Linked DNA regions of Homo sapiens. The protein of the gene in region 1 purifies or fractionates together with the protein of each later gene. This does not show direct contact. Each region holds a gene or a part of one and is shown on either strand. Other genes may lie near its edges.

Region 1 (3,500 bases):
AAGTATCTATTCTTGTCCTTTGCCCACTTTTTAATGGGGTTGTTTGTGTTTTTTCTTGTAAATTTGTTAAATTCCTTATAGATGCTGGATATTAGACCTTTGTCAGATGCATAGTTTGCAAATATTTTCTCCCATTCTGTAGGCTGTTTACTTTGTTGATAGTTTCTTTTGCTGTGCGGAAGCTCTTTAGTTTCATTAGATTCCATTTGTCAACTTTTGCTTTTATTGTGATTGCTTTTGGCATCTTTATCATGAAATCTTTGCCAGTTCCTATGTCCAGAATGGTACTGCCTAGGTTGTCTTCCAGGGTTTTTACAGATTTGGGTTATACATTTAGGTCTCTAATCCATCTTGAATTGATTTTTGTATATGGTGTAAGGAAGGGATCCAGTTTCAGTCATCTGCATATAGCTAGCTAATTATCCCAGCACCATTTGTTGAATAAGGAATTCTTTCCCTATTGCTTGCTTTTGTTGAAGATCAGAGGGTTGTAGGTGTGCACCCTTATTTCTGGGCGCTCTATTCTGTTCCACTTGTCTATGTGTGTCTGTTTTTGTACCAGTACCATGCTGTTTTGGTTACTGTGGGCCTGTAGTATAGTTTGAAGTCTGGTAACATGATGCCTCCAGCTTTGTTCTTTTTGCTTAGGATTGCCTTGGCTATTCTTTTTGGTTCCATATGAATTTTTAAATAGTTTTTTTCTAGTTCTGGGAATGTCATTGGTAGTTTGATAGGAATGGCATTGAATCTATAAATTGCTTTGGGCAGTATGGCCATTTTCACGATATTGATTGTTCCTATCCATGAGCATGGAATGTGTTTCCATTTGTTTATGTCATCTCTAATTTCTTCGAGCAGTATTTTGTAATTCTCATTGTACAGATCTTTCACCTCCCTGGGTAGCCATATTCCTAGGTATTTTATTCTTTTTGTGGCTATTGTGAATGGGATTGCATTCCTGATTTGGCTGTTGGCCTGGCTGTTGTTAGTGTATAGGAATGCTAGTGATTTTTGTATGCTGATTTTGTATCCTGAAACTTTATCAAAGTTGTTTATCAGCTGAAGGAGCTTTTGGGTCGAGACTATGGGGTTTTTACTTTTTAGAATTCTATTTTATGTCCTGTGATTGCATATTAGCTATAATTGTTTGTTTTGTTATGTAACTAGTTATTTTACATCTTTATGTCTACCTTCAAATGATTGTATGCTGCTTCATGTACAGGATAAGAACCTTATAGTAGTATACTCCCATTTGTCCCCTCCTACCCTTTATGCTGTTGTTGTCATCCATTTTACTTTTACATATGTTATAAACCCCACAATATATTGTTTTTGTTTTTGTTTAAACAGTTATCTTTTAAGGATAATGATAATAATGCCTTAGTCTCCTACAGAAGCACTTGCCAATCCACTCCCTGCCAACTTCTCTGGCCTCATATTCGACTGTCCTCACTGCACCCATTGATCCAGGCATACTAACCTCTAACAACTTATCACTGTGCCCTTCCTCCCTTCCTTCTCTTACTCCCCCTACCCACTTTCCTATTGAGTTAAGTTGATCCTTTTCTGAACTTCCATTGTAATACTTTGTGTCCACATTGTTATTTTAGCTTTTGTCAACCTCTAGTGCAGGGATCCCCAACCCATGGGCCGTGGATCAGCACTGGTCCATGGCCTGTTAGGAACGGGGCTGCACAGCAGGAGGTGAGCAGCGGGCTAGTGAGCATTATCGCCTGAGCTCCGTCTCCTGTCGGATCAGCGGTGGCATTAGATTCTCACAGGAGCGTGAACCCTGTTGTGAATTGCGCATGTGAGGAATCTAGGTTGTATGTTCCTTATGAGGGTCTAATGCCTGATAATCTGAGGTGAAACAGTTTCATCCTGAAACCATCCCCCTACCTCTGCCCTGGTCCATGGAACAGTTGTCTTCCATGAAACCAGTCCCTGGTGCCGAAAAGGTTGGGGACCTCTGCTCTAGTATAATGGCGATTTTTCTGTGTGGTATCTCTCACAGGTCATGGGCTGCTCATGGACAGGAACTTCTTCCAATTATACCCAGAATCCCAGCAATAGAAGGCTCTCAGTACATAAGGAGTATAGAAAAGTTCAATGGAAGTATTCTGAGAATTTGGTTCAATGACGTTAATGCCTTTTGTTGTCTCACTTGGACTCATATATAGCTATGTATATTCTTGTCATTCCAGTGGAATGGCACTTTGGGAAAACATGAAGATGTGGTATCTTTGTGATAGAAGTGAGCTTCTTAACACTAATGGGAATTAAATATGTCACGCACTTAATAGATATTGACAAAAAATTAAAACTGATAAGGGGATAAGGAATTTGAAATAAGTCTTTTTCCATTTCATTGATGTGGTTCTAGGTTTTGTCTTCTGTAAAAAGAGTTTCCTTTGGAGATGCATTAGGAGACAATCTTTAGTTTTCATTAGTTTTAAGTAGCAGTAATTCATGAAACAGTAGCCCAGGGTTTTCAGAGTTTAATTAATGTTTTGAATATGATTAATTTATCACCCAGGGAAAATGTTAACTACCTAGGAAAAATGACAGAATATAACTTCTTATGAGGCCCTTTACTTAAAACCTCATTAAGTAGCAAATCAGAATTTTGTTTTAAAAAATTGAAATTTATTAGAAGACTATGCATCTCTCTATATTGAAAGTCATAATTGATATAATCCTATAAAATACAAAATTCCTGGAAAACTGGAATCACAAATATATATTTGGAAAACTCGTGTTAAGTTTTATGGAAGCACAAGTCTATGGCAGTAGTTGCTACTTTGGCCTTTTTCTTTCAGTGAAAGATGTCATGTATATCTGCCCATTTATGGGAGCAGTGAGTGGAACCCTGACAGTGACGGACTTTAAGCTGTACTTCAAAAATGTCGAGAGGGTGAGTTTTTTAAAGTGTGTTTTATTTTAAAAGAAACACTTTTAAAAGAACACTAAAAGAAGAAAGTAAAAAGTCCCCTGAAATCCCATTACCCTGAGATAACCACAGGTTGGATTTTGAGATGCACACATTTGCAAACAGATGTTTGTATCTTGAAAACAAAGGCTGTTAAAGTACCGCTTAAACCTGGAGGGGAAATTCCATTGTTGTCTCAATATATATTTCACAAGGAATGCTGTCAATCAGACTTCAATTTAGCTGGGACAAAGAGGAAATGCGAAGTAAACAAACATGTTTTGTAACCCAGCAAAGACTTAAAATATGAAAACTGTTGACTGACACTAATAGGCATTGATCTTAATTTTTGAACCTAGGACCCGCATTTTATCCTTGATGTTCCCCTTGGAGTGATCAGCAGAGTGGAGAAGATTGGAGCACAGAGCCATGGAGACAATTCCTGTGGTATAGAGATAGTGTGCAAGGTATAATAGAAACGCCAAGTGAAAACTAAAAGAGGGCAATCAGCTCTGAACTTTTTCTCCCTCAGTCTCTTCATGGTCTTTGGACAGTAGAATAATTTGTACTG
Region 2 (3,500 bases), on another chromosome or scaffold:
CGCCATGTTGTCCAGGCTGGTCTCGATCTCCTGACGTCAGGTGATCCACCCACCTTGGCCTCCCAAAGTGCTAGGATTACAGGTGTGAGCCACTGCGCCCGTCCCTTTTTTAACTTTTTAGGGAAAATATAAATAAATGTGTAGCTTGGGAAATGAGACTCTTCATTTAAAGAAGTGTGAACTTGACACATGATTCTTAGCCATATCCTAATATTTTCAAAATTAGTACAGGTGACCAAGAAAAAAAAGAAGAAACAACACAAGATTCCAACAAATGACGAATTACTGTATGATCCTGAAAAAGATAACAGAGATCAGGCCTGGGTTGATGCACAGAGAAGGGGGTAAGAACTTAAAGTTAATATTTAGAATCTTTAGAAAAAAAGATTGAAAGATGATTTTTACTACATTCACATTTTGAATATATGTGTATATGTTTACACAAACACACACACACAAACAAAAAAGTTAGAGGAAAAAACTGCTCAGTAGTTTATTTTGAAAATAACCAGCAAATTTTAGTGAGACTTTTTTTTAAAATTTTTTAAATTTTTATTATTATTTTTGAGACAGAGTCTTGCACTGTCGCCTGGGCTGGAGTGCAGTGGCGCGATCTTGGCTCACTGCAACCTCCGCCTCCTGCGTTCAAGAGATTCTCCTGCCTCAGCTTCCCGAGTAGTTGGGATTACAGGCGCCTGCCACCACACACAGCTAATTTTTTGTATTTTTAGTAGAGACCGGGTTTCACCATGTTGGCCAGGCTGGTCTCGAACCCCTGACCTCGTGATTCACCTGTCTCGGCCTCCCAAAGTGCTGGGATTACAGGCTTGAGCCACTGCATCCAGCCCGACAATTGTTTTTTTGTTTTTTTTTAAACTTGTTGAATTTAGGCTGCGTTAGTCAATCTCTCCCTCAAGAAAAACTGACTTTTTTTTTCAGATGCTGTTTTAAATTACTTTGAGATTAAGAGTTTATGTGGATGGGCCAGGGTGGTGGCTTATACCTGTAATCCCAGCAACTTTGGGAGGCCGAGGCAGGTGGATCACCTGAGGTCGGGAGTTTGAGACCAGCCTGGCGAACATAGTGAAACTCTGTCTCTACTAATACAAAAATTAGTGGGGCCATAGTGGCGCACACCTGTAATTCCAGCTACTCAGGAGGCTGAGGCGGGAGAATTGCCCAAACCTGGGAGGTGGAGGTTGCAGTGAGCTGAGATCACGCCACTCCACTCCAGCCTGGACGACAGAATGAGACCCTATCTCAAAAAAAAAAAAAAAAAAAAAAAAGGGTTTTGTGGATGAAGAGTGGATTTAGCAAATTGTTCTTTTTAACTACTTACAAATTTGATTTTTAAAAATTGAGATGAGGCTGGGCATGATGGCTCACACCTGTAATCCCAGCACTTTGGGAGGCCAAGGCGGGCGGATCACTTGAAGTCAGGAGTTCAAGACCAGCCTGGCCAACATGGCGAAACCCCATCTCTACTAAAAATACAAAAATTACCTTGGCATGGTGGTGTGTGCCTGTAATCACAGCTACTCTGGAGGCACAAGAATCGCTTGATCCCAGGAGGTGGAGGTTGCAGTGAGCTGATATTGTACCACTGTACTCCAGCCTGGTCGACTGAATGAGACTGTCTCAAAAAAAAAAAAAAAATTGAGATGAGGCTACTCTAGGTACACTGCTTATGGAGTAGCCCTGCTCTGCAAGGAGCAGTTAAAAATTTTTTTTGAGATAAAATTCACATAACAAAAGTACCCACTTTAAAAGTGAACAATTTAGTGGCATTTAATACCATTCACAATGTTGCACAGCCACCACTTTTATGTAGTTTCAACCATTTTCATCATCCCAAAAGGAAACGCTGTACTGTTAGGTAGTTTCCCTACCCTTCCCCTCAGCCCCTTGGCAGCCACTGATCTGTGCACTGTCTCTGTGGATTTGCTTATTTTAGATATTTCTTATGAATGGGATATTATACAGTATGTGACCTTTTATATCTGGCTTCTTTCACTGGGCATAGTGCTTTTGAAGTTCATCTACATTTTAGCACATGTCAGTACTTCTCTACTTTTTATGACTGAATAGTATCCCATTGTATGTGTATACCACAATTTGTTTATCCTTTCATCCACTGAGGGATGGATGTTTGTGTTGTTTCCACACCCTCTGCCCCCACCTTTTTTTAAGAGATGCCTGGGCTGGAGTGCAGTGGTGCAGTTATAGCTCACAGTATCCTCAAACTTCTGGGCTCAAGCACTCCTCCTGGTTCAGCTTCCTGAGTAGCTGTGACTGTAGGCACACACCGCCTCCCGGGTTCAAGCACTCCTCCCACCTCAGCCTTCTGAGTAGCTGGGACTATAGGCACACACCACCTGGCTAATTAAAAAAATTTTTTTAATAGAGAGGTCTAGCTGTGTTGCCCAAGGTGATCTTGAACTCCTGGCCCCAGGTGATCCTCCTGTCTTCACCTCCTGTGCTGGCATTACAGGTGTGAGCCATTGTGCCAGGCCATTTTTTTTTTTTTTTTTTTGAGACGGAGTTTTGCTCTTGTTGCCCAGGCTGGAGTGCAAATGTGATCTTGGCTCACCGCAACCTCCTCCTCCCAGGTTCAAGCGATTCTTCTGTCTCAGCCTCCTGAGTAGCTGGGATTACAGGCATGTGCCACTGCACCTGGCTAATTTTGTATTTTTAGTAGAGATGGGGTTTCTCCATGTTGGTCAGGCTGGTCTCGAACTCCTGACCTCAGATGATCCACCTGCCTCGGCCTCCCAAAGTGTTGGGGTTACAGGCATGAGCCACCGCACCCGGTCATTTTTTTTTTAATTTAAAGACAGGGTCTTGCTGTGTTGCCCAGACTGTAGTGCACTGATGCTATCATACCTCAATGTAGCCCTGAACTCCTGGGCTCAAATGATCCCCCTGCCTCAGCCTCCTGAGTCCATGCTTGTTTTTTTTGTTTCTAATTTAATTTTTAATAGACACAAGGTCTTGCTATGTTGCCCAGGCTGATCTTAAACTCCTGGGCTCAAGCAATCCCCTCCTACCTTGGCCTCCTTAAGTGCTGGGATTAAAGGTGTGAGCCACCATGCCCGGTTTATGCTTGTTTATTTTTATTTTCATTTTTTTTTTTATTTTCTTATAGAGACAGGGTTTCACCATGTTGCCCAGGCTGGTCTCAAACTCCTAGGCTCAAGTGATCTGCCCACCTTGGCCTGGGATTACAGGTGTAATTCCAGCCTGGCTCTATGCTTGTTTTTGTTTTTGTTTTTTTGGGACAGAGTCTCGCTCTGTTGCCCAGGCTGGAGTGCAGTATCGCAATTTCGGCTCACTGTGACCTCCACCTCCTGGGTTCAAGCAGTTCTCTGCCTCAGCCTCCCAAGTAGCTGAGATTATAGGTACCCGCCACCATGCCTAGCTAATTTTTGTATTTTTAGTAGAGACGGGGTTTCACCATGTTAGCCAGGCTGGTCTTGAACTCCTGACCTTGTGATCCACCC

Evidence for each region. Proteins that work in one complex are often made in the same cells at the same time.
Region 2: the proteins of MTMR1 (region 1) and EAPP purify together in Homo sapiens (affinity purification with mass spectrometry, with the first as the bait; one large-scale study listed by BioGRID). This does not show direct contact.

What each region holds. Positions count from the first base shown.
Region 1 is NC_000023.11:150,724,396-150,727,895, forward strand, and holds part of MTMR1 (phosphatidylinositol-3-phosphate phosphatase MTMR1), read left to right. Parts: intron 1-2,819; coding exon 2,820-2,914; intron 2,915-3,288; coding exon 3,289-3,396; intron 3,397-3,500. UniProt on the Homo sapiens protein: Lipid phosphatase that specifically dephosphorylates the D-3 position of phosphatidylinositol 3-phosphate, generating phosphatidylinositol. Could also dephosphorylate phosphatidylinositol 3,5-bisphosphate to produce phosphatidylinositol 5-phosphate.
Region 2 is NC_000014.9:34,526,202-34,529,701, reverse strand, and holds part of EAPP (E2F-associated phosphoprotein), read left to right. Parts: intron 1-226; coding exon 227-344; intron 345-3,500. UniProt on the Homo sapiens protein: May play an important role in the fine-tuning of both major E2F1 activities, the regulation of the cell-cycle and the induction of apoptosis. Promotes S-phase entry, and inhibits p14(ARP) expression.